Homo sapiens: one gene and its partners. The protein of the gene in region 2 interacts with the protein of the main gene of each other region in a pairwise test. Each region holds a gene or a part of one and is shown on either strand. Other genes may lie near its edges. The genes, in order: CCM2L, PBX4, PKNOX2 and PKNOX1.

Region 1 (7,733 bases), on a different chromosome or scaffold from region 2:
TGTGCCAGGCCCAGGTTTTGCCCTCTGTCTTGTGTCCATCTGTATCCCCAGCACACAGCAGAGTGCCTGGCACATAGGAGGTACTCAAGAAATATTGCTTAATAAAAACTCAACCTTAGGCTCCTGCCTCCTTGTCTCTAAATTGTTCCAGAACCATCCTCCATTATTACCTACAAAGAAGCCGTGTAGCTTTGTGGTTAAAGGACTGGATTCTGGAGCCAGCCTTCTTCTGTTCAAATCCCATACTTACAACTTACTAGGTGCTTGACCTTGGGAAAACTAAACTTAATTTCTCTATTTCTCAATTTTTCCATCTGTATAATGGGATAATAATAATTAGTGTCATCATGAGAATTAGAGGAGTTAATATTTGTAGAACACTTAGAATTATGGGCTATAAGCAATAAACAGTAGCTGCTGTAATGTTACTATGTTGATGAAAAAATAAAGTGCTTTATAGAACAGCACTTAGTACATAGCAAGTTCAATGTTCAAACGCTATTATCACTATTTTATCTCTTCAGTAGATATCTGGTTGTTTAAAGACTAGCCTAAGGGCATACAGTATGAGGAAGGCAAATCTATTGCCACTAAAAAGGAAAGAAACAATAAGACATATATCACTGGCAGAGACTGCTACATGCCAAACTGAAGCCCTTAGTAATATAACTAGGTGATCAACCAGTAACCCAGGACTTTCTTGGTTTTAGCACTGAAAATCCCATATCCGGGGGAACCCCTCATTCCTGAGCAAACTGGGATGGCTGGTCACCCTAAACAGAACCCTGGGTAATGTTCCCAACTGAATTGTTTAAAATTTTATTTATTTATTTGTTTATTTATTTATTTCAATAGAGACAGGGTCTCCCTATGTTGCCCAGACTGGTCTCAAACTTGTGGGCTCAAGTGATCCTCCTGCGTTGCCCTCCCAAAGTGTTGGGATTACAGGCGTGAGCCACCATGACTGGCCTGAATTTTTCTTTTTTTTTTTTTTTGAGATAGAGTCTCGCTCTGTCGCCCAGGCTGGAGTGCAGTGGCGCAATCTCAGCTCACTGTAAGCTCCGCCTCCTGGGTTCACGCCATTCTCCTGCCTCAGCCTCCCAAGTAGCTGGGACCACAGGTGTGCGCCACCATACCTGGCTAATTTTTGTATTTTTGGTGGAGATGGGGTTTCGCCATGTTGCCCAGGATGGTTTGGAACTCCCAGGCTCAAGCGATCCACCTGCCTCAGCCTCCCAAACTGTTGGGATTACAGGTGCGAGCCACCGCATCTAGCCTGAAATATATTTTTTTAATCCTAAATTTTCCAGCTTTGCTTGCAGCTAGTGATGGCTATGTGACCAAGTTCTGGCCTATGAGATATAAGCAGAAGTCATCAGGTGGGAATCTGGCAAAACTCTTTAAAGAGGCCCCTTAGCATGCTACTGTGATGGCTGGAGCTACAACCACCATCTCGGTCCATGAGGTGACCTTGAGGATGGCTGCAAGTCCTGAAGAGGGTAGGGAAGGAAAAGAGAAGCCTGAGCTCCTAACAACCATGAAATGTTGAATTGCTGCTCTATTTTATGTCAAATATAAGAAAAAAAAGTTCTATCTTGCTTAAGATACTCTTTTTGGGGATTTTCTATTACATGGAACCAAAATTAAGCCAAGATAATTTTTTTGGCATGTAGCTATGATTTTGGTTTCTGCAGACCACTGTGCCTGGATGACTGGGAGAGAACCACAGGACTGTGTGGACCCACATCTGAGTTCTGGTGTCTCCTGGGTCTCTCAAGGGTCTGGATCCTGTGGGTTTCCAGAGTCAGGGAGCTCAGTTTACCTCCCCCTCTTAGTGCCCAGTGTCTCAGCACACATCAAGGTTGGGTCACCTTCTCCTACCCTCTCTAGTCACCCTGTTTGTGCAGGGGTAGGGGAGCAGGGTGGAGTCCCTGACAGGGGCTGTACTCACAAGGAGCTGCAGCAGCTGAAGTCGGCATCATAGGCATACGTCCCATCTGTGTGGCAGCTCTCACCTGGGACCAGCAGACAGAGGGACTGTCAGAGGCAGCAAAGCAGGGATCAGCATCCCCTGCTCCCTGAGGCCCCACCCTCAGTCTCAGCCTGAAGTCTAGTCCTGCCTCTGACACCAACACACAACAGACCCTGGGGAACTCCCCTCCCCTCTCCTGATCCTCAACTTCCCCGATGTGGGGACAATACCACCCCCCACCTACCTCATAGGAGCCTTGGGAACAGCAGATGAGGAAACATGTGAGGGAATATTTTGTAAACTGTGTGTTTCAGGCAAGACAAAAAAAAAGAAAAAAAAATTTGTGGCTCACGCCTGTAATCCCAGCACTTTGGGAGGCCAAGGCAGGAGGACTGCTTGAGCCCAGGCTTCAAGACCAGCCTGGACAACATAGAGCGACCTTATTTCTACAATAACAAAAAAATTAGCTGGGTGCGGTGGTGCATGCCTGTGGTCCCGGCTACTTGAGAGGCTGACATAGAAGGACTGCTTGGGCCTGGGAGGTCGAGGCTGCAGAGAGCCGTGATTGTACCACTACAGTCCAGGCTGGGTGACAGAGCCAGACCCTGAAAAAAAATAAATAAAAGAAAAGAAAAAGAAAAGAAAAGAAAAAGAAAGAAAGAAAGAGGAAAGGAAAGGAAAGGAAAAAAGAAAGAAAGAAAAAGAGGAAAGGAAAGGAAAAAAGAAAGGAAAGAAAGAAAGAAAGGGGAAGGGGAAGGAAAAGAAAAGAAAGAAAGAAAGGGGAAGGGGAAGGAAAAGAAAAGAAAAGAAAGAGAGAAAGAAAGAAAGAAAGAAAGAAAGAAGAAGAAAGAGAGGAAGAAACTTGTGAAGGGGAAGGATCTGAAAACCTTCAGAGCAAAGAAACACCAAGTACGGAGAGCTTGCGCTCTTCCTAGTCCTGTTGTCTCATTTAGCTGGTTATTAGCCCTACCATTTCTGATCTCTGATCAGTGTTGCTTCCTTACCCTCCAGGTGGGGCCAGTTCCTCATTATACATTCTCCCAGCACAGTCTGTGGTTATTTATTTATTTTGAGGCAGAGTTTCGCTGTTGTCGCCCAGGCTGGAGTGCAGTGGTGTGATCTCTGCTCACTACAACCTCCACCTCCCAGGTTCGAGTGATTCTCCTGCCTCAGCCTCCCGAGTAGTTGGGATTACAGGTGCCTGCTACCATGCCCAGCTAATTTTTGTATTTTTAGTAGAGATGGGTTTTCACCATGTTGGCCAGGCTAGTCTCGAACTCCTGACCTCAGGTGATCCACCTGCCTTGGCCTCCCAAAGTGCTGGGATTACAGGTGTGAGCCACTGTGCCCAACCTGTGGTTGTGTATTTATTTGTGTACTTATTTAATCACTGTCAGCCTGCCTCCACTAAGTAAACTTCATGAAGACAGGCCACCTCTGGTTTTGCTCACCAGAATAACCTACTGATTAGCACTGGATCTGACCCACTAGGTGCTCAATAAATATTTGCTAAATGAATGAATTTGTTGAAATATTTGTTGAATTATCTCATTTATTTGCCTATCATCCTTGTGAGAGTTGAACTAACCCAGCCTCCCAACAAGCACAGCTCCCACAGATGCGAGGGTCTTCTGAAGAAAAGAACGAGCACTCTGCTGCTGGTACCATGCTGTGGGAGACAATGGCTGGGGAATTCACCCACTGGCCTGAAGGCAGCATGGGGAATAAGGTTGTTGCTGATAGAAGCTTCAGAATCAGACAGACCTGGATTTGAATCCTGACTCTGCCACTTACCAGCTGTGTGACCTTGAGTAATTTATTGACTAATCTGAGCCTTAATGTCCTCATCTGTAAAACTGGAATCGTGGCCAGGCGCGGTGGCTCATACCTGTAATCCCAGCACTTTGGGAGGCTGAGGCAGGCAGATCACGAGGTCAAGAGATCAAGACCACACTGGCCAACTAACATGGTGAAACCCCGTCTCTACTAAAAATACAAAAATTAGCTGGGCGTAGTGGCGCATGCCTGTAGTCCCAGCTACTCAGGAGGCTGAAGCAGGAGAATCACTTGAACCGGGAGGCAGAGGTTGCAATGAGCCGAGATCGTGCCACTGCACTCCAGCTCAGGCGACAGAGTGAGACTCCGTCTCAAACAAACAAACAACAACAACAACAAAAACCAACCAAACGAAAAAATGGGAATCCTAAGGCCTCAGAGAGTTCTTTCATCCATTCAGAAAAATACTTCATGAGTATCTGATGTACCCAGTCTCGTGCTAGGCACAGGGGATACAGTGACAAAGAGGACAGGCAAGGTTGCTATGAGGACATGGCACATTGGTACGGTGCTTGGCACACAACTGGTGCTCAACAAATGTCTCTATTAGTCTCATTCTCCTTCTAGTCCTTGAGTGCATCCAAGCACCCATCTGGAAATCTTGGTTTTGTGTTAGGGTCCTAGTGGGACCAATGGCTCAGTAAGCAGACAATACATGTGCTTAGGTTGCTGCAATATAGGGACACAAAAACAAAAGGGAGAGAGAAGAGTTCAGCTCTAGGGGGCTTGTTCTGAATTTGACAATCCAAACATCTTTGAAGAAGCTAAGTTTGAGATCATCATGAAAACTGATGGCTGGGTGCAGTGGCTCACGCCTGTAATCCCGGCACTTTGGGAGGCTGAGGCGGGTGGATCATGAGGTCAGGAGTTCAAGACCAGCCTGGTCAAGACGGTGAAACCCCGTCTCTAATAAAAATACAAAAAAAAAATTAGCTGGGTGTGGTGGCACATGCCTGTAATCCCAGCTACTCGGGAGACTGAGGCAGAGAATTGCTTGAACCCAGGAGGTGGAGGTTGCAGTGAGCCGAGATGGCATCACTGTACTCCAGCCTGGGGAACAGAGGGAGACTCTGTCTCAAAAAAGAAAAAAGAAAAGAAAAAGAAAAAGAAAATTGACATTTCACCTACAATTGTGGGGTACACTGTAATTATGGCAGAGATCAGGAGCCCTAAATACCTTCATCAGCCCAAGTCCTGGGACATCTTCCCTCCCCTGGCCTTTTTGGGATGTTTCACAGGAGGGGAGGCCAGGAGTTCTGGTACTCACTGCGGCTGCAGAGCCATGGCCGTTCAGGTGTGGATGTGTAGTGGTAGCCAGCCCGGTCCACACACTCAATACTCTGGTCCCCGTAGATGATCTGGAAGACCTGACAGATGAGTGCGCAGGACTCCTCTGCAGCGTCCTGGCCCAGGGAGGAGGAGAGAGAGCTCAGGTCCTCACCAATGACCAAGATGTTACCCTGCTTCCTAAAACAGTGTGTGAAGATGCGCACAAAGATACACACCTATAGAGCCCTTTAAATTGGCTTTCAAGAATTTTTCCATCAAAATTCGATGGCTACTCTCTGGATCTTAGAACCCCTTTATAGAATTCAGTGACAACTCTAACTCTTGTGCCATGAAAAATGTACCCCAGATTTGTGGAGGATTCATCAGCCTTCCTGATGCCCTTCTAAGATAAGTCCTAATTTAGTTTAATGTATAGATATGGAAACGGAGGCCCAGTGAGGGGAAGTGATTAGTCAGGATTAGAATCCAGTTCTCCTAACACCTAGTAGGAGAAGGGATGATTAAATGTATCAAAATTTTAGGCTCAATATAGTTACTAATACTGGAAGCCATATTTAGATATGAGCTTCCTAGCATTCAGTGTGAAAATGGAAACAGGATAAATAAAATTCAATCTCTGATAGAAGGAAGGAGTTTAAGTTCTTGGGTAAAACTTTTTTGAGACTACAAATGTGAATAGGTATTTAGTTCTTGAATTTACCTCTTTATGCCTTAAGCAAGACACACAGAAAACCAGTAATTGATGAAGACACTGTCTTCATGAACCTTTTCTCTATGTTGTGTCTGTAAAAAGGCCCAAGACAATGGATGGTTGGATACAAAAAATAAAAATAAAAAAGCCCAAAGAATAAATTAAAACGTAACCCAGGATAGGCATTTGGGGATAGTAGGTGTGTCCTAATAATTAAACCAGGTGATCCTTACCATAGACCTACAAAATGGACAGACAAAGATGCTGAGACTTAGAGTGGTTAAGTGCCTTGCCTAGGCTCACACAGCAGGTTCATGGCATTAGTACCAGCACCCAGGTTGTTTTTTACTCTAACTCCTATATCCTTCTTAGGACCAGGATGACTCAGATAAGAAGCCAGATGCTCAGACAACCCTGGAAAGCAACTTTTTTTTTTTGAGATAGAGTCACACTCCGGTCGCCCAGTGGCACAATCATGGCTCACTGCAGCCTCAACCTCCTGAGCTCAGGTGATCCTCCCACCTCAGCCTCCTGAGTAGCTGCATGACAGGCACACACCACCACGCCCAGATAATTTTTTGTATTTTTAGTAGAGACGGTGTTTTGCCATGTTGCCCAGGCTGGTCTGGAACTCCTGGGCTCTAGTGATCTCCCTGCCTCAGCCTCCCAAAGTGTTGGGATTACACTTATTTACTCACTCCACAAATTCCAACTTAGTCCTATTATGTGGCCGACACTGGGCCAGGTTCAGTACCGCAAAGCCCTCACAGTCCAGTGGGATGACTGTTAGCTTTGTCTGGAATCCTATTTCCAGCCACAGAGGAAGTGGGCATGGTGGCTGGAGTACAAATGGCCTTGTAAGCAATTGTAAGGATGTTAGCTTTTACTTGGAGTGAAATGGGAAGCCACTGGAAGATGTGGAGTAGTGACATGATGTGGCTTTCATGTTAACGGGACCACTCTGACTGTGTGGGGAAAGAGACTGTCAGCAAGGGCTGAACCAGTCAGAGGATGACCACATGATTCAGGTGAGAGAAAATGGGGCATGGACCTGGGTGGGTACAGGGGGAGGGTGGGGAGAAGTAAATGGATTTTGATGTTTTTTTGTTTTGTTTTGAGACGGAGTCTTGCTCTATTGCTCAGGCTGGAGTGCAGTGGTGCGGTCTACCTCCTGGGTTCAAGGGATTCTCGTGCTTCAGCCTCCCAAGTAGCTGAGATTACAGGCACCCGCCGCTATGCCTGGCTAATTTTTGTATTTTTCGTAGAGACGGGTTTCACCATGTTGGCCAGGCTGGTCTTAACTCCTCAACTCAGGTGATCCACCCGCCTCAGCCTCCCAAAGTGCTGGGATTACAGGCTTGGTTATGTTTTAAAAATAAGAGCCAACAGGATTTATTGACAGAGTGGATATGGGGTGTGTGTGAGAAAGAGAGAGCGTGAGAGCCAGCCAAGGCCCACAGCAAGGTTTTGGCCTGACCAATGTAAGGACACAGCTGCTATTAATTGTGACAGGGAAACCAAGGGAGTGGCAGGTTTTGGGGGAGGAGGTTGGAGCTCAGTTTTGGATGTGTTGGGTTTGAAACAGTCGTTAGATCTTCAGATGCAGATCACCTAGAAATGGGTAGATGAAGGATAGATGGAGGAGAGAAGAAGATCAAGGACAAAGTCTGGGGCACTCCAACTTCTGAAGAAGAGGAGGAACCAGCTTGGTAGGAGAAAAGCCTGGAAAAGGTGGAGAGCTGGAAGCCAAGTGAGGAAGTGTTTCAAGGGGAGAGAGACAGCTGTGGTGTCTGAGTTTACTGGTTATTATCTGCCTCACCATCTAGACAGGAACTATGTCTGTTTCATTCACCACTGTTTTTATACGGAGGGATCTGGTGGTCCAAGATCAGAGGAAAAGCTTAGAATGCTCAGAACTTGAAGGTGTCTGCTCGCCTGTGAGCT
Region 2 (7,733 bases):
GATTACTCTTCTCTCCATGAAATTCTTCTCTTGGCTGAGCGCAGCCTGGGCAACATAACGAGACCCTGTCTCTACAACAAATACAGAATTTAGCCAGGTGTGTTGGTGCGTGCCTCTTGTCCCAGCTCATTGTCTCGCCATGTTGCCCAGGCTGGTCTCAAACTCCTGAGCTCCAGCGATCTGCCTGCCTCGGCCTCCCAAAATGCTAGAATTACAGGCATGAGCCACCGATTTTACATTTCGGTAGGTCAGAAAGCCCACATGGGCACAGTGGGCTAAAATCAAGGTGTTGCCCAGTGAGCCCATGGGCTGGTTCCTTGCCTTTTCCAGCCTGTTGAGGCCACCTGCATTCCTTGCTCATGGTCCCTTCCTCCATGATCAAGGCCAGCAACATAGTATCTCTCCAACCCTTACATCATCATGACTTTCTCTGCCCACATCTGGGAAAGGTTCTCTACCTTTAAGGGTCATGTGATGACAGTAGGCCCCCCCAGATAATCCGGGTTAATCTCTCCATCTCAAGGTCCTTAAACTTAATTACATTGGCAGAATTATTTTTCCCATTTTTTGTAAAGTACCATATTTAGGGTTCTGAGGATAAGCATGTGGACCCTTTTGGGAGCCATTATCCTGCCAACCATAGTTCCCAACCCAAGCAAGCAAAAGCCAGAGTTGTCCCCATGACTTTCAAGGCCCTTAGAGTCAATCTCCACTTGCCAGTCTAACTTCTCGTAGCTCTCTCCCTCACCCCTAACACTCAGCAGCCTGGTCTCAAACAGCCAGTACTGAACCCAGTGTGTTCTCACAGGGCCTTTGTGCTTGGCTGTTTCTTCTGCCTAAACCATACCTCTCTCCAGTCCTTTTCTTGGTTGATTTCTCCTTCTCATTCTGATCTCAGCTTTGATGTCACCTCAGAGACATGGAAATTCCAAAAAGCCTTCTAACCATCACTGTCATGTGACCCCAGTTGCCCCAGAGCAACTGCCACGGCTGATGGGTTTCTTGTTGGTGTGTATTTTTGGTGTCTCACTCCCTCCCTCTTAACTGCCACATGTGTAAAAACCTTACCTGTCTGTGTCTCTGATGCCAGAATGGTGTGTGGCACATAGTAGGTACTCAGTAAACACCTGCCAAGTGACACTGGAAGAGGATGATTGGTGCTTCTGCTTAGGCACCAGGATACACCACTGCAGGACCATAGTGTGAACACAGATTTCAAGTTGTTGGACCTTGATATTTCATAGTTCTTTTTTTTTCTTTCTTTTTTTTTTTTTTTTTTGAGATGGAGTCTCTCTCTGTTGCCCAGGCTGGAGTTCACTGGTGCGATCTCAGCTCACTGCAACCTCTGCCTCCCTGGTTCAAGCAATTCTCCTGTGTCAGCCTCCCGAGTAGCTGGGATTACAGGTGTGCACCACCACGCCCAGCTTTTTTGTACTTTTAGTAGAGACGGGGTTTCACCATGTTGGCCAGGCTGGTCTCAAATTCCTGACCTCAGGCGATCCATCCGCCTCGGCCGCCCAAAGTGCTGGGATTACAGGCATGAGCCACTGCCTCTGGCCTTTTTTTTTTTTTCTTAATGACAAGGCCTCTGTTATGCTGGCTGGAGTACAGTGGCATGTTCATAGCTCACTACAGCCTCTAACTCATGGTCTCAAGCCATCCTCCTGTCTCAGCCTCCTGAGGGATTGGGACTACAGGCATACCACCATGCCCAGCTAATTTTTAAATTTTTGAAGAGAATGGGTCTCACCATGTTGCCCAGGCCGATCTTAAATTTCTGGGCTCAAGTGGTCCTCCTGCCTTGGCCTCCCAAAGCGTTGAGATTACAGACATGAGCCACTAATGCCTTACCATAGTTTTTGATGAGTTATTTGCATTGTTTAAACTTTTGCATATAGTGGGAAATGTTTTGAATATTTGTATATTGCTTTACATTATTATTATTATTATTATTGAGACAGAGTCTCACTCTATTGCCTGGGCTGGAGTACAGTGGCACAATCTTGGCTCACTGCAACCTCTGCCTCCAAGGTTTAAGCATTTCTCCTGCCTCACCCACCTGAGTAGCTGGGATTACAGGTGCATGACACTGTTCCTGGCGAATTTTTTTTTTTTTTTTTTTTGAGATGGAGTCTCACTCTGTCACTTAGGCTGGAGTGCAGTGGCCTGATCTCGGCTCACTGCAACCTCTGCCTCCCGGGTCTAAGCAATTCTCCTGCCTCAGCCTCCTGAGTAACTGGGATTACAGGTGGGCACCACCATGCCCAACTAATTTTTGTATTTTTAGTAGAGACAGGGTTTCACCATGCTGGCCAGGCTGGTCTCGAACTCCTGACCTCAGGCAATCCGCCTGCCTTGGCCTCCCAAAGTTCTGGGATTATAGGCATGAGCCACTGTGCCTGGCCAAGTTTTGTATTTTTAATAGAGATAGGGTTTCACCATGCTGGCCAGGCTGGTCTCAAACTCCTGACCTCAAGTGATCCACCTGCCTCGACCTCCCAAAGTGCTGGGATTACAGGCGTGAGCCACCACGGCTGGCCTTTATATTGATTTTGTGCAAATCAAATTCACATGAAATATGATTGTACTGCATTTTCATAAGGCGACTTATCTACAGTCAGAGTGGCAGATCTCGTTTGGTTTGATTTCTCAGTATGGAAGATCTTTACTCTTGGGGACAAGATGATGACTATTCTTTTCTCACACCCTCCTCTGTCACCTCCCTTTCAGAAAGCATGCTCTGAATTGCCATCGGATGAAGCCTGCTCTGTTCAGCGTGCTCTGTGAGATCAAGGAAAAGACAGGTAGGCTGTTTAGAAGACACTTTCTGGCCGAGCGTGGTGGCTCATGCCTGTAATCCCAGCACATTGGGAGGCGGAGGCGGGCAGATCACCTGAGGCTGGATTCCAGACCAGCCTGACCAACATGGAGAAACCCTGTCTCTATTAAAAATACAAAAATTAGCCAGGCGTGGTGACGCATGCCGGTAATCCCAGCTACTCGGGGGGCTAAGGTAGGAGAATCGCTTGAACCTGGGAGGTGGAGGTTGCGGTGAGCCAAGATCGCGCCATTGCACTCCAGCCTGGGCAACAAGAGTGTGCGGTGAGCCAAGATCACGCCATTGCACTCCAGCCTGGGCAACAAGAGTGAAATTCTGTCTCAAAAAAAAAAAAAAAAAAAAAGGCACTTCCTGTGTGTGACTAGAGCTGCGGCAGCACACCTCTGATCTTGTCTCAGCCCTTATGTGCATGGTGGGCCGTTTTGCTCATCCCTTCTGTCTCGCAGAAGACGGCTAGGATGTTTTCTTTCTGCCTTATCATTGCCCTGGTTTCCAGTATGCACACTGATTTATTTTGTAGTTTATAACTGAGAAATACTGTTGCAAATCAGTAACAAGCAGCTGCATTCTAGGTCGAAGACCTAAGAGGTGCTTAGCATTCAGTCATATAGAAAAAGGAAAAATGACAGACTTAGGGAAATTGAATAAGAACAGTTTTGTCGGCTGGGCACAGTGGCTCATACCTGTAGTCCCAGTACTTTGGGAGGCCGAGGCAGGTGGATCACGAGGTCAGGTGTTCAAGACCAGCCTGGCCAAGATGGTGAAACCCCCATCTCTACTAAAAATACAAAATTAGCCAGGCATGGTGGCACATGCCTGTAATCCCAGCTACTTGGGAGGCTGAGGCAGGAGAATCACTTGAACCCAGGAGGTGGAGGTTGCAGTGAGCCGAGATCGCGCCATTGCACTCCAGCCTGGGCAAGAAGAGTAAGACTCCGTCTCAAAAAAAAAAAAAAAAAGGAAAGAAAAGAAAAAGAAAAGTTGAAAAAATAGTACAGAGAGTTCTCGTATCTCCTTCTCCGGGCTTCCTGTCTCGTCAACACCTTCAGAGCCATAGTACAAATATGGAAACCAGGAAATTACGCTGAGTACAATGATCTTTAACTGAACTACAGACCTCATTTGGAGTTCCCCAGTTTTTGCCCTAATGCCCTTTTCTGCCCTGAATCCCACGTTGTATTTAGTCATCATGTCTCTTTGGTCTCCTGTGATCTGTGACCTTGTCATCCATGAATGACGCTGACCATTTTAAGAAGCGCTCAGTCATTTTGTAGAACATCCCTCAGTGCGGTTTGTCTGATGTTTCCTCTAGATTGGACTGAAGTTGTGCATCTGTGGCCAGAGTCCCACAGAGGCAATGTGTGTGTCCTCAGCACATTGTGTCAGGGAAAACATGCTGTCAATATGTCCTGTCACTGCTACCATTGACCTTGATCACTTGGTCAAGGTTAATAACAATTTGAAAGTAGCTTATAAGTGGGGCCACCAAATAAGATGAAGATATTTAAACCAAGGGTCATCTGCACAACGTGTCACTTGATTTCTTAGAGTGAGTTGGTCTCTTGAGGTCAATTATTTGAATTTTGTGTGTCACTTTGGAGCATAGCACTTCATATTTGCTGAGGCTTGTGGAAAGTGTGTGTATATGTTGTACAAAAGTGTGCTTCTTTCTGAACACTGTTTTGGTGCAAGATTGATGTGTACTTGACATATATAGTAGTTGAGAACAGCAAGAGGGTCTGAATTCTGCCTCCACCTCTGGCTGCATGACCCTGGTCCTTGGCTGAACCTTTCTCTGTTCCTGGTCCTCCTCTGATTTGTGGGGCAATAATAATACTTAGCTCATGGTTACTGAGGACTGTTGAGGGCTGTGTGAATTCATATATGTAAGGCTGTGGGCATGGTGCCCAGCCTTCAGAAGAGATCTGGTGACTAAAGGAGAAATTCAAGTTTAAATCTACATTTAAGTTTCGCCTAAATGCTATGAGGACATGATGTCCCTAACCCTCCCCAGTGTAAATTTATTTTTATTTTTATTTTTTGGAGATGGAGTTTCACTCTTATTGCCCAGGCTGGAGTGCAATGGCACGATCTTGGCTCACTGCAATCTCCGCCTTCCAGGTTCAAGCAATTCTCCTGCCTCAGCCTCTGAGTAGCCGGGATTACAGGCGCCTGCCACCACACCCAGCTAATTTTTTGTATTTTTTATTAAAGATGGGGTTTCACCATGTTGGCCAGGCTGGTCTTGAACTCCTGACCTCAGGTGATCCGCCTGCCTGTCTGCCTCCCAAAGTGCTGGGATTACAGGCGTGAGCCATCACACCTGGCCTTTTTTTTTTTTTTTTGGAGACAGGGTCTCACTCTGTCACCCAGGCTGGAGGGCAGTGACATAATCTTGGCTCACTTCAGCCTCCTGGGTGGGTGATCCTCACACCCCATCCTCCCAAGTAGCTGGGACTACAGGCACGAGCCACGTTGCCCAGCTAATTTTTGTATTTTTTGTAGAGAGAGGGTTTTGTCATGTTGCCCAGGCTGGTCTCAAACTCCTGGCCTCCCAAAATGCTGGGATTATGTGTGTGAGCCACTGTGCCCAACCAGGCTCATATTCTGTTCTGCCTCTGCCTGCTTCACCCAATTCTCTAAGGAGCCCTGATTCCTTTCAGAGTAAATCTTGGCCTTTGATGTGCTCATTGCTGTTGGGGTGTTGCTGCTCTTGGACACTCTTAGGACACAGAGCTAAGGAATATTTGTGGGTTATTACAGATGCGTGTGTACACACACACACGTGCGCACACATTCACATCTGTTTTCCTATGTTTTTATATATTAAAAACCATGAGTTCATTATGATATCTTTATTTTTGTTTGTTTATTTATTTATTTATTTATTTATTCTCACTCTGTTGCCCAGCCTGGAGTGCAGTGGTGCAATCTCAGCCTCCCAGGTTCAAGCATTTCTCCTGCCTCAGCCTCTGAGTAGCTGGGATTATGGTGTGCACCACCACGCCTGGCTAATTTTGTATTTTTAGTAGAGACAGGGTTTCATCATGTTGGCCAGACTCGTCTCAAACTCCTGACCTCAAGTGACCTGCCCGCCTCAGCCTCCCAAAGTGCTGGGATTAGAGATGTGATCCACCGCACCCAGCTTATTTTTATTTTTGAGACAGGGTCTCACTCTGTCACCAGGCTGGAATGCAGTGGTGAAGTCACAGCTCATTGCAGCCTCAACCTCCTGGGCTCAAGCAATACTCCCACCTTGGCCTCCCAAAGTGCTGGGATTACATGCATGAGCCACTGTACCTGGCCCACTCCAATATCTTTAATTCTAGTTCACCACAGGGTTCCCACTATTTTTCTCTCTTCCCAGGTTTGTGACTCCTTCCTCCAACAGTGAGAGCCTGCTCCTGTTGTCCTCAGTACTTTTGCTTGTGTAATCAATCTCCCACCTCCTTCACCCCCAAGTATACTTAATCCCCCAGCCAAGCAGACCCCTCCTTGTCCCCACCCCCCAGCAGACTGCTGCTGCTGACAGCCCCCACATGATATGCCCCCTGTTGGTCTCCAACACCCAGTGCCAGGTCATCCTCCCGACGGGGCCAGATGCTGGGCTGTGATGCCCCTGGCTTCCTGCCCACCTCATATGCCTCTCATGGGTATGTAAATATCTGATGACCTGTCTTATCTGTTCCTTATTTAAATTGTGGGGAGCAGATGCCATGGAAATGGAAACACAAAGGTTAGGCTTTCCTGGGGAACCAGACACACAAGTTTCTTGTTAGCGGTGAACTGGTTTTAAGCAAATTTGCCCTCAACTCCCTGGCAGCACTCCCTGATGGTGCTTCAGCATTCGTGTGGTAAGCTGGACAAGCGGGGGCCCTGTACCCGAATGAGCCCCAAGTACTGCAGGCTGAGGGAAGCCGCTCAGAAGGACACAGCCAATGTGTATCCACCCCCTGGAGACACTGGCTGTGGTCACGTGTTTCTTAGTATTGTGGAATTGTGTAATGTTGGTCCCTTTCACTTTTCACCTAATAAAAATAAGCCAGTGTCAGGACCACTTGCTGAGGCATGTGTACCAATAGGCACAGGCAGCCCAAGTTGTCCCTTGCTCACCCCTGACCCTGACCCCAGGAAGCAGCCTTTGGGGGCTCCCCACTGCCCACAGCGGATGTTTAGCAATGCAACATCTGGAATTTAGTAATAATAAAAAACTATTTTAAAAAGTACTTTTTAAAGGCTGGGTGCGGTGGCTCACGCCTGTAATCCCAGCACTTTGGGAGGCCGAGGCAGTTGGACCACCTGAGATCAGGAGTTCGAGACCAGCCTGACCAACATGATGAAACCCCGTCTCTACTAAAAATACAAAAATTAGCTGGGCGTGGTGGCATGCGCCTGTAATCCCAGTTACTCAGGAGGCTGAGGCAGGAGTATCACTTGAACCCAGGAGGCAGAGGTTGCAGTGAGATGACATTGCGCCACTGCACTCCAGCCTGGGTGACAGAGTGAGACCCTGTCTAAAAAAAAAAAGTACTTTAATCAACTGTAGTCTCAGGAAGCTGTCATTCTTGACCTTCCTACCAGTGAGCTGCTGGGGCTGAACGAGAAACCAATTTTTGAGAGTGTGGGTGTTCAGCCTGGGCACGCCTCTTCATAATTCCATCTGCCCCTGTGTGGATGTTACTGCATGAGTCTGTTAGTCTCAAATTCAGCAGTTTCAGGAGGGAAAACAAGAGTTGATACCAACTGTTGCCAGTGCAGCTGAGATGTCTGTCCATTTCAACCGCTGGTGTCGCCCCACCTCCCTACCCCCATCTGCCTAGGCTTTGAGGGCCATGCTCAGGACTCTTTTTTTTTTTTTTTTAGACAGAGTTTCACTCTTGTTGCCTAGGCTGGA
Region 3 (7,733 bases), on a different chromosome or scaffold from region 2:
ATACATGATCTTATTCAGTTTTCACAACAACTCTGAAGTGTAGGTATTATTGTCATCCTAAATTTTGCAGATAAAGTTCAAACTACTTGTTCAAAATATCAAGGCAGAAAATAATCAGTGTGGGACATCAGACGACATGGCTTTATAGAAAATAAGAAACCCCATTTTTGTGTACTTTCCTGGGACTGTGAGACTTGTGTACAGTGGTAGGAGACTAAAATGTGAGGTTGCATTTGTTTTGCTTTTTTGATGCAGACTTCTTAGAAAAAGAGGGCTGAATCATTATTTTGAAAGAGAAGGGAGGGAAAGAAGCTGAAAGATGGAGCAACACCTGGGGAGAGGAATTAAGGATGCATTCACCACATTTGGCGGTGATGTTGAATTAAGTGGCATTGTTATTGCCCTAGAAGATTTGGAATAAATTTTCACATGACCCCGATCATTTAGAAAAATAGTTTAATAAATCAGAATTTTCTAACTTGGAGACAAAAATCCAAAATTGTAAACACAGGATAGAGGATGATTTACTAAACACAAATATGGGAGCAAAAAAGACCCTTGGAGTTACTATTTTTTCACTGGCTGGACGTAGAATAGCAGTAGAAAAGCCAATGGGATATCAGACATTATTAGAAGAGATTATTTTTACAACTTGCATGCATTTGGTTTACTGTGGTTTATAAAGCATGTTTACATCATTATCTCCTTTAGCCCCTTTCAAATCTTGTGAGTTAGAGATGAACATTATCCCCATTTTACACGTAAAGAGACTGAGGCTCAGAGAAATCATGGAATTTGCCCAACGGCACCCAATTAACAGAGAGCGGGCTCGGACTCAAATCCAGGCTGCCTGACAATGAACCCACAGTGTTCCTGCCCTGCCAGGCAGCCCTCTAACATTGATAGTGTTGCCTACCTTTCTAATATTGAACAGGTCCTACATATTCATTGCCTCAGAATACCATTATGATTTACTCTACCTCCTTAAATCTTTCAACCAATTCCATTAGCCCATAAAAAAGTAATCCTTCAGCTGCACTTTATTAGACCAAAGGATAAGTCCACTTTTGGTCACTGTGCACCAGACCTGGTTTAAACATGCTGTGCGTGTATTTTATTTGAGCAAAGCTCTTCTGAGTATATTTTACTTTTGTTTTACTTACCTGTATTTTCTGATTTTATAAAGTAAGTATAAATTGGTTATATATTTAAAATAAATGAATAGGTAAGTGCACTTTTCTCTGTGTATGTGTGAATATATGTATGTGTGTGAGAAAGAAGGAAAAAAGGAAAGAAAGGAGGGAGGAAAGAAGGAACGGGGAAGGGAAAGAGAAGAAAGGTTTAAGGAATGACGATCGTTTTTGTCTAGAAAAGAGAAAGTTTGGCCGGGCGCGGTGGCTCACGCCTGTAATCCCAGCACTTTGGGAGGCCAAGGTGGGCGGATCATGAGGTCAGGAGATCGAGACTATCCTGGGAAACACAGTGAAACCCTGTCTCTACTAAAAATACATAAAAAAAAAAATTAGCCCGGCGTGGTGGCGGGCGTGGTCCCAGCTGCTTGGGAGGCTGAGGCAGGAGAATGGCGTGAACCAGGAGGTGGAGCTTGCAGTGAGTCGAGATCGCGCCACTGCACTCCAGCCTGGGCGACAGAGCAAGACTCGTCTCAAAAAAAAAAAAAAAAAGAGAGAAGAGAAAGTTAATTGAACAACTTGTTCAAGTCAGATGCCTGGTCCAATATGTGGCATATAGTAAGACTCAATACTTGTTGAATGAATAAAATTAAATTAAAAAGAAGTTGTGTTGATAGAGGTCCTAGAAGTTCCTCGATGTTCTTGGTGCCTACAGAAGGCACTTTACATTAAGGCGGGAGAGATTTTGATTGAATATAAGGAAAAGCTTCTAATCAGCAGACTGAGAGAATATGGAGAAGGTCCGAGGCAACAAGGTCATCGCCCAGTGACCGGGAGAGGCTGGAGGAGAAGATGCAGCCTGTGTCCTGATGAGTTTGGACTGTGCAGCCACCTAGAGGCTGGTCCAGGTCACCGTGTGGGGTTCATTCTAACACCATCAGGCGTGAATTGAGGGCAGAAGTCCTGGTAATGTTCAGAGAGTCAGAAAACGTAAGGGACCTGACAGTCCAGCCCTCTCCGTGTGCACATGGAGAAGCAGGCACCTGTGTTGGTGAGGTGTTTGGACCCCGGGGGGCTGTGCCAGGAGTGAGAGATGGGAGATCAGAGCAGCTGAGAAAAGGCACATTACCAGGAAGGGTTCTGGAAATCCTAAACTTTGATGTCTCAAAAGCTACTTGGCTTCCTAGAACCCCGTACTTGCTGTCACTGAGCCACTTTCTCCCAAACCACGCACCCTTTATACTACCACTTCCTCTACCTACATAATCCTGAGAGTCCATATTGAAAGACAAGGCACACGGGTGGGGGGTGGGGCAACCTGGCTTCATATCGCTCACCAGTTGTGTGACTCTAAGCAAGGAAACGTAATATTTTTGGATTTTATTTTCTTCAAATGCAAAATATGAGCAATAATGGTACCTACTTAATGAGATGGTTGTGTGGAATAAATAAGGCCTGGAATGGGCTTAACACAGTGCCTGAGACACAGTCTGAATAAGAAACGTTTGGGTATTATTAACAATCCAGCAACGCATATGTGTTAAGTACCTTATCCTGTGCTCATTACACTGAGAGACATAGACCAAGATGTTCGTGGCCAAAGTCAAGTAGAACATTAGGCAAGAACAAATCTTTATTAAGTACTTAACTCCACTTTGGGGTCCAAATGATCCATTCTAAAGTCACAATTTTCCTCTTTGCTTAGGATGGCTCAGTCTCCCTCAGTCTCAGCCCCACAGAGGTGGTACTTCTTAGGAGGAGACCTTGTGACTGAGCCCTGCATGACGACACACAATCGCTGCTTTCTGTCTTTGAGTGACACTTGGTCTAATTTAGTACTCCAAAAACCCTTAATTAGTTGAGCACAATCCCTGCTCATCAGACAAGCCACAAGCCCAGCCCAGGGAATGTGGGCTCCCCACTTGAAATGCCAATGAGGCTCAGAGAAGGGTGTAATGCTGGCTTCAAGCCACACTTCTCTACACACACCTCACAGTCACAATTCTCTGGGAGAGATTTCCTTCCTTGTTTCCATCCCTTTTTATATTGTCCAAACTCTCCTCTAGGCATCCAGGAGCTAGCCAAAAGCTAGGAGGGTGGGACTAAAAAGAGATCCCATATATTGCTTGCGTCAACATAAATGGATCTGGAAAAGCAATAAGCATCACCCGCTCCTAGCGGTTACATTTAATTTTGATATAAATGTAGATTCACATGCAGTTATAAGAACTCATACAGAGAGCTCCTGATTCACATCTTGTATAACCATAGCACAATTTCACAGCCAGGAACAATCCACCAACTGTATTCAGATTTCACCAGTTTTACGTGCCCTCGTGTGTGTGTGTGTGTGTGTGTGTACATGTAATTAGTTCTGTGCAATTTTATCATATACTTAGATCCACATAAACATTGTTATAGCAAAGTACAGAACAGTTCCTCCCTCCCTCCTCCACTCTACCGCTGTCAACCACTAATCTGTCTTTCTGTCTTCCATCTCTATAATTTTGTCATTTCAAAAACGTTTTGTAAATGGCATCATATAGTATATAATCCTTTGAGACTGGCTTTTGTCTCTCAGGAAAATTCCCTTGCAATCTATCCACATTGTTGGGCATATCAATAGCTCATTCTTTTTTATTGCTGAGTTATATTCCATGATATGGATGAATTACAGTTTCTTTATCCATTCACCCATTGAAGTACATTTGGGTTGTTTCCGATTTTTGACTATTAGAAGTAAAGCTGCTTTGAACAATTTGTATACAGGTTTTTGTAAGAACATATGTTTTTATTTCTCTGGGATAAATGCCCAAGAGTACAATTGCTGGGTCATATGGTACGCACATATTTAGTTTTGTAAGAAATTGTCATACTGTTTTCCAGAGTGGCTGTACCATTTTACACTCTTAACAGCAATGTCTGAGTGTTCTAGTCTCCAGTTCCTCACCAGCATTTGGTGTTGTCATATTTATTTCTTTTATTTTAACCATACCAATAGGTGTGTAGTGATATCTCATTGTGGTTTTAATTTGCATTTCCCTAGTGACTAATGACATTGAATATCTTCTCTTGTGCTTATTTGCCATCTGTATATCCTCTTCAGTGAAATGTCTAATCATGTCTTATGACCATGTTCTAATTGGGTTGCTTGTTATTTTACTGTTTTGTTTTGAGAGTTCTTTATATATCCTAGATACAAGTCCTTTGTCAGGTACTTGGTTTGCAAATATTCTCCTCCAGTATGTAGTCTTTTCCTCTTCTTCACAGGGTCTTTTGAAGAGTAAACATTTTTAATTTTGACAGCGTCCAGTTCCTCACTGGATCATCTTTTTTTTTTTTTTTTTTTAGATGGAGTTGCGCTCTGTCGCCCAAGCTGGAGTGCAGTGGCTCCATCTCGGCTCACTGTAACGTCCACCTCCTGGGTTCAAGCGATTCTCCTGCCTCAGCCTCCCAAGTAGCTGGGACTTCAGGCATGCACAACCACCACTGGCTAATTTTTGTAATTTTAGTAGATATGGGGTTTCACCATGTTGGCCAGGCTGGTCTCAAACTCCTGACCTCAAGTGATCCTCCTGCCTCGATGTCCCAAAGTGCTGGGATTACAGGCGTGAGCCACTGTGCCCAGCCTGGATCATGCTTTTGGTGTCAACTCTAAGATCTCTTTGCCTCACCCTAGATCCTGAAGATTTTTTCCTGTTTTTTTTTAAGAGGTTTATAGTTTTCTGTCTTACATTTATGTCTTTGATCCATTTTGAGTTAATCTCATCTAAGGTATGAGGTTTAAATCAAGATTCAGTTTTTTTGCATGTGGATGTCTAATTATTCTAGCACCATTTGAACAACCCCCTGTTGAAAAGCAATTTGGCAATATTTATCATAATCCACAAGAACGTTCATAGCTTTTTTTCCTGTCACTTCTGGGAATTCATCCTAAAGAATAATGCAGAAACTTTTAAAAAAAAAAAAAAAAAGCTATAAGCTTAGAAAATATTCACTGTAACATTTTTTATAAAATTGAAAAATTGGAAGTAATCTAAATACCTAACAATAGGAGACTGGTTAAGTATGGCACACACATGAAATAATATGCAACATTTAAAAATATGTTTACTCAATAACTTTCACCCATTCAGCAAATGTTTACTCCATATCCATATGTGTTCGTGCTGAAGATAACATGGTGAGCAAATTAGACATCATCCCTGCCTTCTCAAAGCTCATAGTCTAGAAGAGAGGATAGAGAAAACAATTCTGGCACTTAGAAAAATAGATTTGCTAAACTAGAGGGAAAAAACAGAAAACAAAATTGCATGCACAAGGTTATTGAAACTATGTTAAAATATATGGGTGTAGGAAAAAATCATTCTTTAAGGCGATTGGATCGAAGACAGGTTTTTTTCACCCTGCTTTCCATACCTTCCATAGTATTTTCTTTTTATGATAATAACAGCAGTAAAGAGCAAAGCTTCAATTGCAAAATAGCTTCTTGCCACGAAAAGGTTAGGAATGTCCATTTGAAGAGGCAGCAGGCTCCCGTACAGCAATCCAAAGGGCATGGAAAAGGCCACAGCAGACAGTGAGGTAGCTGGTGCCCAGCTAAGTCATGCTGGATTATTCAGTCCATCAGCAAGTATCCACAGAGCGTCCACAAGGTAACCGGTATCCCATGAGGCACTCAGAATGCTTGTTTAAGAATAGACAGTCCCTGAGCTCTAGAGGCACTTATAAGAAATTCTGATCTCCATCTTCCTCAGGCTTGCCTGGTCCTTCACACCTCACAATGTGCTACCATGTATACGCCCTCATACAATACTCACAACAAACCTGTAAAGTTGTCAGGGAGAATCTAATTATCCCCATTTGTTAGCCACTAAGGCACAGAGAGCTTGAGCAACTTGCCCAAGCTCACACAGATAGTAAATGACAGGCCGGGGGCTTGGACCTGGCCTCCCATCGCTAAGGCCAATGCTGTTCTCAGAATACCACAACTGCCTCAAGAACAGCTGTGATAACAGAGGGCTCAGAGCAAAGGAATAATTAGCAGAGAGCCATCATTAGAACTGAAGTCATGGGGATGAGAAGGCACCGCCTACCACTTCTGGGCCTTTTGGCCAAGATCAAGTGTAGGAAGCATGAGCTACGGCAGGGGGTGGGCTCCCCTCCCCTGGGGTGGTGGGGGCTGGGGGTCCAGGCAGTGAGGGAAATGGGATGCAAACACCTGGGCTCACCTCTCCTCCCTCTCCACAGATGGTGAAGGCAATCCAGGTCCTGAGAATCCACCTGCTGGAGCTGGAGAAAGTCAATGAACTCTGCAAGGACTTTTGTAACCGTTACATCACCTGCCTCAAAACCAAGATGCACAGCGACAACCTGCTCAGGAATGATCTAGGGGGGCCCTACTCCCCCAACCAGCCCTCCATCAACCTTCACTCACAGGTAACACCCAGAGCTGGGTCCCATCTCTTAAGCCAGGCTCCTAAGCCCAGCTCTGGAGCCACGCGTGGAGGAAGGTCCCCTGGTGACCTTCACTGGGTTAGACCCACTGGGTTCCTTTGCCATGAGGGCCCTCCTCTGATGCACTCTTCTTCATATCCATTAGGCCATCCCATCCCTTTTTTACACACAGTCTGCCCTGCCAGGGCATTAGTATTCCCTTGAAAATGACCAGATCGGAGAGGGACAATGTCCAAAATCATTCCTGGCTTCCTGGCCCAAGGTATCCCCCAGAATGAGCACCAGAGCTAAGGAGAAGGAAAGCTCTCCTGGAGGATGAGCTGGGACAGGCTTCTTAAGAGGCTGCGGCTTGCTGAGCCATCTGCATTTCTGGGAAAGGGCATTTGGGGAAAGCAGTCATTCCCTGAATCCTGCCCACCTAATGGGTGAAGCCAGCTTCCCATGGGCCTGCTGCTCCCTAATCATTCTCCAGGCACTCACGCTACTCTGGCATCTCTGTCCCCCTAAGGTTCAGGGCCATGGTCAAGGTCACCTCAAACCACCCTGTTCCCAGGTTCCCCTGCCACCTCCTTCCTGAGACCTGGGAAATGCAGAAATGCTGACTACACGCTTTGGGCAAGATGGGGTTTCCCCTCCAGGGCAGGATATTTTCCCCAAACCTACAAACCGAGAAAGCTGCCTGGCAATACCTTCCCGCCCAACTCACAGACATCTGCATAAGCCACAGGCTTGAGACTTTGTTCCCCTTCCACTGAGCTCCTGAGTCCTGGAAGACACCTGGAGGGTCCCCAAGGAGTCCTCTGTAGCCTCTTCTCATTAAACAATCAGGCATGGGGATGCAGGTAAACTTTCTAGGAGTGAGTGCCGAGAGGTGCTGGAAGTAGTGCCAAAGAAAGGCTGTGCCGTTTTTGTCCCTAGACCCCTAAGGAACCACCCATGTACTCTATCTCCCCAGATTGGTGGAGTCAGGGGAGGGGACAGGCTGACTTCTAGAAGGCCAGCCTTGCTTTGCACATTTTGACAACAAGCACAAAAGATACACTCGGTATCACATCCAACCCACCCCAGTGGGCTCTTTGTGAGACTCCGTAGTGAGTACTGCCCAGGACATAGGGCAAGAAGTTTACTTCCTCTTCCTCTCGCTTG
Region 4 (7,733 bases), on a different chromosome or scaffold from region 2:
TTTCTGCATTCATGATTTCCTGGTGTTCCCTGACTTGCTACTATGTTACATTAACGAATTGTCTTATCTAGGTTTAGTATCAACTTTTAATTTTTAGTAATAATAACAGTTTAATAATATAACTTAAAAATTCCAAATTTCTGAAATCTTTAATATTTGTAGCTACTTTTACTTTTTGTGACTTTCTTTTCTTTTGTATTTACAAACATTACATCTTGGAGTGAGATACACACACCCATCATTAGTTCATGCCTCTGCTGGTAGCAGCTTTGAATAAGAATGATTTAAAAACACATTACAGGCCAGGCGCGGTGGCTCACACCTGTAATCCCAGCACTTTGGGAGGCCGAGGTGGGCAGATCACGAGGTCAGGAGTTCAATACCAGCCTGACCAACATGGTGAAATCCTGTCTCTACTAAAAATAGAAAAATTAGCTGCGTGTGGTGGTGCACACCTGTAATCCCAGCTACTGAGGAGGCTAAGGCAGTAGAATGGCTTGAACTCGGGAGGTGGAGGTTGCAGTGAGCCCAGATCGCACCATTGCACTCCAGCCTGGGCGACAGGGTGAGACTCAGTCTCAAAAAAAAAGAAAACAACCAACACATTACAGTAGCAGTGGGGCCTTCCCTCCCAGGTCTCGCTGGGGTTGTGGGTGGCCATGGAGCTTGTGCTGCAGGGATCACCAGGTTCCTCTAAATGAAGCATGGCGGGATCCGATCTGCTTCATTATTATTAGACTGTGTGCTAATATAATTGTAGATATTTTTAAATCTTGGACTTTTAAAATTAAGCAACCTTAGAGCTGATCCAGTTCTAGTGTTGTTGTTTTGCAGAGGGGGGCATTAAAAAAAGAAAGAAGTTGTCACAGTGACAAACCAGAGTAGAATCTGAGTCTAAAAGTAATGCTTTTGTTTCCCTGATATCGTGAACATGGCTACTCAGCTATCCAGATAGAGAAGTCTGGCTTTTAATAGATGAGCAATGTGTGACTCTAGCAAGAGGTCAACTACTTTATCATTCATGTTACTGAAAAAAGAAGACAGAAACGAGGCCTTAAGCATGGTTGGTATTGCTGCTTTTGCGTTAGGTTGGGGTAATGCATGAATCTGGACGGGTTCTGGTTTGATAGGCGCTTTCACGGGACAGATGTTGTTTTTCTTTCCGTTTCTTTCCATTTCAGCTCTTTTTGTAGCAAAGTGGCCCAGTCAGTGGCATAGGGTGGTGGGTGCAGCAGAACGCATGTCTGGTTTGCTATCTTTGTCCTCTAGTCACTGCAGGAGGAAAAGCTGGCCTAGGGATTTGAGTCTCCTTGCACTTTCTCACATTTAAAGGCAACAGCTCATAGCATAAGAATGGGAACTGAAGACAGCAGCCTTTAATCTTAATGTATTTTGAGATTGCTATCATACTCATTTGATATGAAACAATGTCCAGCCTGCCTTGCCAACCTGTGACTGTTGGGCCAGGTGCAGTGGCTCACATCTGTAATCCCAGCACTTTCGGAGACCAAGGCAGGCAGATCACAAGGTGAAGAGATCGAGACCATCTTGGCCAACATGGTGTAACCCCGTTTACTAAAAATACAAAAATGAGCTGGGCGAGGTGGTGGGCGCCTATAGTCCCACCTACTCAGGAGGCTGAGGCAGCAGAATCGCTTAAACCCAGGAGGCGGAGGTTGCGGTGAGCTGAGATCGTGCCACTGCACTCCAGCCTGTGCGACAGGGCGAGACTCCATCTCAAAAATACAGAAACAATGTCCAGCCTGCCCTGCCAGCCTGTGATTGTTGCTGCTCTCGTTCTCTGTGGAGTCTTATCACAGGCGTGAGTGCCTGGTCTGACAGAGTCGCCAGCGTCTGTCGGGGATTTCATCACTGCTGGTGCCTACGTGCTGTGCTGGCCACATGTCTAGGACCACTGGAGGACTTACGCCTCCAGTCATCTAAGAAACAGCTCATCATTGGGAATGGTTTTTGAAAAGATGCAGCTCTTGCCTTAGATCGTGCTTTGTGGTGAAACAAGAGGAGGTGGCAGTCCCATTCTCTGATGGCTCAGACACGTTGCCACCCAGAGGCTCGGCCCCGTTGGTGATCTGGTGACGTCCAGACGAGTGCAGACTGCCCGATCGTCTCAGGCATGATGGCACTACAGAAAGTCTTGCTTCTTTAACATTTTTCTTCCTTAGGGAAAACAGTGTCAGATTCACAAATTCAACAGTATCATCTATGTCGTTATGAGTATCTAGTTCACAAACATGCCCTAAAGGAGTTGAGACAAAAAAAAAAATGCCATGGACGAGTTGGTGCTTATTTGCATGATTTTTAAAACAACAGGCTCTGTGTTTCTGGGCATTTAGAGAATTCAGAAGAGCTGTTGAGTCCTCTTAAGTAGTTACTATAGTGGAGAACTTGAGTCATTCTTTGTAGCGTGCTTCGTAGAGCAGCGTGTTTGTTAGAAGGATTTGTTAATCCTGTATAGGGTCTTTACGAAGGCTGTTTTCATGGAAGCTTCTCTTTGTTGACTCCAGGTTCATCAATGCCAGAAGACGAATTCTTCAGCCAATGTTGGATTCAAGTTGTTCAGAGACCCCCAAAACAAAGAAAAAAACTGCTCAGAACCGGCCAGTTCAGAGGTTTTGGCCTGATTCTATTGCATCAGGAGTCGCACAGCCACCGCCGAGCGAGCTCACCATGTCGGAAGGTACAGGTGGCCGGCCAAGGCCAGACATGGTGGACCATGGGGTGGGGATTATGAACAAGAGGCCTGGATCAGGCCTGTTAGCTGTGAGCCTCAGGTAATGTGGTGAACGAGAGTGCGTGGTTCTCTTTCTCTGCAACTAAAACATGAGGAAGCTGCATTCTGCGTGCACGGGAGCTCTCAGTAAGAGTTAGGAGCACCAGTAGTAGAGAATGTAAAACACGTGATAGAGATATGAAATCATTAATTCTGTCTCAAAGACACAGTCATGCCCATGGATCTTCTCCTTTGCTTCTGTGTTTGCTCTCCTTTTCCCTCCGACGCCGGGTGTGGAGGAGGGACTTACCCCGTTCTCACCACGTGGCTTCTTTCTCTTCATCCCCCATGCCCTTCTCTTGTTTTTGCTTGTTCCCTGTGGCCTCTGCTCTCCATCCCCTGACGTAGGCAGCCATTCTGATGTGTTTTATAGGCATCTTTCTGTTCGCATGAGGTCTTCATATTTTGGATGGTTTTGTGTGCATGTGTTTTTATTTTTTTTTATTTGTTTGCTTTGTTTTTTTTTTTTTTTTTTTTTGAGACAGAGTCTCACTCTGTTGCCCAGGCTGGAGTGCAATGGCGCAATCTCGGCTCACTGAAACCTCTGCCTACCAGGTTCCCGCCATTCTCCTGCCTCAGCCTCCCGAGTAGCTCGGAGTAGCTACAGGTGCCTGCCACCACGCCCGGCTAATTTTTTGTATTTTTAGTAGAGACGGGGTTTCACCGTGTTCACCAGGATGGTCTTGATCTCCTGACCTCGTTATCCGCCTGCCTCAGCCTCCCAAAGTGCTGGGATTACAGGCATGAGCTACCGCGCCCGGCCCAGAAACAGTTTCTTAAATCCCTGTTGAACATTCCCTAAACATATATAGGTGTTTTATTTTAACTTTAGGTCAAACGAGCAAACAGCACCCAATTGAGTAATAAAGTGTTTTTCTGTGAGTACTAATTTAAATAATGACACACCTTCATCCTGCCGCAGGAGCTGTTGTCACCATCACCACGCCCGTGAACATGAACGTGGACAGCCTTCAGTCTCTGTCCTCGGACGGGGCCACCCTGGCGGTGCAGCAGGTCATGATGGCAGGGCAGAGCGAGGACGAGTCTGTGGACAGCACAGAGGAGGATGCGGGTGCCCTGGCCCCTGCCCACATCAGCGGGCTGGTCTTGGAGAACAGTGACTCCCTGCAGTAGGGGCAGGAGCAGACGCACCTGACTTTTTGGAGTTTGCACAGCAAACATTTTACACAGTTTTATTTCTAATATGTTTTATATGTAGATATAGAAGAGTGCACTTTTGTATTTCATAGTAAGCTTAAAGCGCGTCTTTGCCGGTGCAGCGACTTCTTTCAAGTGTGTGTGTGTGTGTGTGTGTGTGTGTGTGTGCGTGTGTGCGTGTGTGTGGATTTTTAAAGAAATTCTTTAAAGGTTTAACGCTAGATTGTGAGGAATGACACACCACTCCCTCCCCACCTTGAATCCCTAATTAGATTAAGGAATAGCGCTGCCATTTTCTAAACCGTGATGCGGTTGTCACTTAGTTCTGTGGTTCCAGCAGATCTCAGTGGGCTGGTTGATTTGTGTGGCCCATGGATTTGAAAGAAGCTGCTGCACCCGAAACTGCCAGTGTGCGGTGACAACGGCACACGCCTAGACTGAGTGTGGTTTCGTCGTGAGTGGATGGACGGCAAGCTTAGCAAGCCTAAGTCCCCTCATGTTCAGTGAGCCTGTTTCATTTGCTATATAGAAAAAGAAACTCCTATTTTTACCTTGCTGGAATTATTGGATAAAAAAGCTATTTTTATAAATTCGTTATGAATTGGATGATGACTATATTGAGGATAAAATTTCTAGAGAAGAAACAATACATGCTTGCTATTAATATTTCAATTTGGAATGTTCTGAATTGACCAAATTTAATGAACCTGCCCAAAGTTAGCTACCGTTCCATGGTTCTTTGCTCTCCCCGGGTAGTGATGAACATTTACTACTATAAAAGAAACAGCTATTTAATGAAATTTTGATATCTGCAAATTTTTGTTGATATGTAATGCTCAGATTGCATTTTACACTTGATCTAAACATATATCGAAAGATATCTGCTAAACAGGACTTCAGGTAAGTGAGGTGAAATGGTAGCCAGTGACCCGTTAGGAGCTCTCACCGTACATACTCCAGTCTAATTTAAATCTGACCACAGTTGCATGGTCGCTTTACCATGTTAGCTGTGTATTGTTTTAAAAGTTTTAACTTCAAAATATGTTATGCACAGAATGTTTATTATAAACTAATATAAAATGTGCTCTACCCCATTGGCTCAGAGCTAGGGCAAACAGCAGATATTCAGACTTTATTACTTAACTAGCGGACATCCCTGGAGTCCCAGCAGCGAGCTGGTCTGGCGAGGGCACCTCGGCAGCCCCCACGGGTTGGCTCCTACGTTTGCGTTTGTGGCTGGTCTCCTGGTGTCAGTGTTCTCTTGTACGTTGTTGCTTTCGACTTTTCAGAGCCCTCCTGCTCACTTGACCACGTGAGATTTGGAATAACTGTAGGACTTCTGTTTCCTGGTAACAAGATGAACCGAGAGAGTGGGCTGGGTTCTGTTTTCTTTGGTTTTGATTTGTTTTCATTGTTTACTTAGGAGTGGTGCTTTTTCTCAGAAAACAGGCCACGGTGTTTCATACAGAATGTCTTCATATCATCTGAAATGGTATGGCTGAAGTTCATTTGTTTACAGGGTCGGGAATGTCTTCAGTTCTTGAGAGTCAACAGTAATGATTGGTTGTAAGCCAAGGGACATTTTAAGCTAGTGAAGAGTTTTTTCTGGAATTGATTTTTCCCAAAAGAATATATTAATTGAGGTTAAGAAGTCAGTGGGAAACACACAGAAATTTGTTTTAAAATCTTTCAGGAGCTTTACTGAAAGACTTGGTTATCAAGTCTTTTGGGGAGAGAATGACATTTTTTTTTTGAGACAGAGTTTTGCTCTTGTTGCCCAGGCTGGAGGGCAATGGTGCAATCTCAGCTCACTGCAACCTCCACCTCTTATGTTCAAGCAATTCTCCTTCCTTAGCCTCCTGAGTAGCTGGGATTACAGGCATGCGCCACCACACCCGGCTAATTTTGTATTTTTAGTAGAGATGGGTTTCTCCATGTTGGTCGGGCTGGTCTCGAACTCCCGACCTCAGGTGATCTGCCTGCCTCAGCCTCCCAAAGTGCTGGGATTACAGGTGTGAGCCACCGCGCCCGGCCGAGAATGACATCTTAAAGCCACCATTGCGTTCCTCATTTGTGAACTGTCTTCTCATATTTTAAGTCAAGTCTATAAGATCATTTTTAACCTAAGTTCCAACTTTGTTGGACTCCTTAAAATAAGCACCCATGAAAGCCAGCCAGCCCTTCCTCCTTCCCTCACCACCCTCCGTCTCTTCGGCTGCTTGCTCTTTAGTGTAGATTAGTGGAAGCCATTCACAGAATGTAGACTCATGTATAGGTCACCGTTTCTTTCCCCCACTAGAAATCACATTCACTAAGCAGTGGATTGAATTTAAGAGTGCTGCCCCTGCCCGGCGCAGTAGGGCGTGCCTCTAGTTCCAGCTACTCGGGAGTCTGAGGCAGAGGATGGCATGTGCCAGGAGTTTGAGGCTGCAGTGCACTATGCTTGCACCTGTGAATAGCCACTGCACTCCATCTTGGGCAACACAGTGAGACCCCCATCTATAAAAAGAGAGCACTGCCTGAACCTCGGTGGCACTGGGAAGCTCTGGCCTGAGAGTTAAACACCCATGCTGAATGATACAGTGTGCATTCTCTCCAGCTGCAAACTTTCTTCAACTTTCCTAAATTCTTACTAAATTCAGAGGAATAGGATAAAGATCACTTAGAGAAAGGGTGCTTATGGACATAGCCTGAGTTTCCTTTAACCTCTCTGCAATGGGTGCTTTTAACTAGCTTCTACATGGCAAGCTGTTTCAGTTTGCAAAATCACTGCCCAGCATGTTTGAGGTCAGTTGGCACCTTAAAACACCTGTTCTCCAGCCCTTGGACAGTGGAGAGAATCTGTAAAAGTGTGACCCCCTCTAAGATTTCGTTTTAAATGATCAGATTCGGTTCCAGTTTTATTCTTGTTGAGTTTTTCCCTATGAAGGCTCCTTTTGAATGTGTCTTGAGACCCAAATTGAGCATGTTGCTGTTATTCCTGCCCTGCACCTGTGGAGCAGGAGTGGCAGGGCTGGCTGTGCTGGGTTCCAGCTCGCTCCCACCGAGGGACTAGCTTGGCCTTTGCGCTTTGATTCCAGATAGTAAGATGAGTGGAAGTGTTTATCGAGCATGCAAAAGAAACCCTCACGGCTAAGGGCTCTGGGAGTTGTGTCTGTGTGACCTGAGAGTGATCCATCTCCTGCCTGTGTGAGGTAGCAGTGGGCACTTTTCATTGAGACAAACTCCAGGGTGTCCAGAGGGGGTTCTGCCCCTTGTGAAGGCCCATTCCTGGCACTTAGAGACAGAAAGAACTCAGCAATCTTTCGTTCTAGTTATATTCGGTCTTTGAAACTGACAATCTTTGAAATGTGAATACTGTAACAATATGTTTTCTTGGATTGTTGTCTTTAAAAAGGATTTTTGTGAAGCAATTGATTTATCAAAGCAAAAAAATTAAAAATAGAAACTTGCTTTATGGATGTTTTATTTTATAAAGCTCATGTCACCAAAAGCTGCTTCTCCATTTTATGTAAAACATTGAGAATGTTTTCATGTTTTCTGGTGACATGTAGGGTCTGTAGTCACCCCTGCATATTGAGAAACTAGGACCACACTGCATCGGACTAGTCAGGTCCATTTACATGTCCAAGAATCTTTTCTTAAATTCCTTACTTTGTTCATTCATTGGCTGTTCAGGCAGAAAATGGAAACAGGTAGCTTTTATGTTTTTTATTATAGTTTTCCACAAATCTAATTATTTTGATAGTTACAAGAAGATAATGATTCATCAGTAAGCTAACAT

Evidence for each region.
Region 1: the proteins of PBX4 (region 2) and CCM2L interact in binary tests that used the Homo sapiens proteins (3 or more experiments, as listed by UniProt).
Region 3: the proteins of PBX4 (region 2) and PKNOX2 interact in binary tests that used the Homo sapiens proteins (3 or more experiments, as listed by UniProt).
Region 4: the proteins of PBX4 (region 2) and PKNOX1 interact in binary tests that used the Homo sapiens proteins (3 or more experiments, as listed by UniProt).

The regions. Positions count from the first base shown.
Region 1 is NC_000020.11:32,020,138-32,027,870, reverse strand, and holds part of CCM2L (cerebral cavernous malformations 2 protein-like), read right to left. Parts: intron 5,212-7,733; coding exon 5,076-5,211; intron 2,016-5,075; coding exon 1,952-2,015; intron 1-1,951.
Region 2 is NC_000019.10:19,594,363-19,602,095, reverse strand, and holds part of PBX4 (pre-B-cell leukemia transcription factor 4), read left to right. Parts: intron 1-2,727; exon of another isoform or gene 2,728-2,730; coding exon 2,731-2,804; intron 2,805-7,733.
Region 3 is NC_000011.10:125,391,494-125,399,226, forward strand, and holds part of PKNOX2 (homeobox protein PKNOX2), read left to right. Parts: intron 1-4,481; exon of another isoform or gene 4,482-4,603; intron 4,604-6,380; coding exon 6,381-6,569; intron 6,570-7,733.
Region 4 is NC_000021.9:43,026,177-43,033,909, forward strand, and holds part of PKNOX1 (homeobox protein PKNOX1), read left to right. Parts: intron 1-2,525; coding exon 2,526-2,698; intron 2,699-3,713; coding exon 3,714-3,925; 3' UTR 3,926-7,733. UniProt on the Homo sapiens protein: Activates transcription in the presence of PBX1A and HOXA1.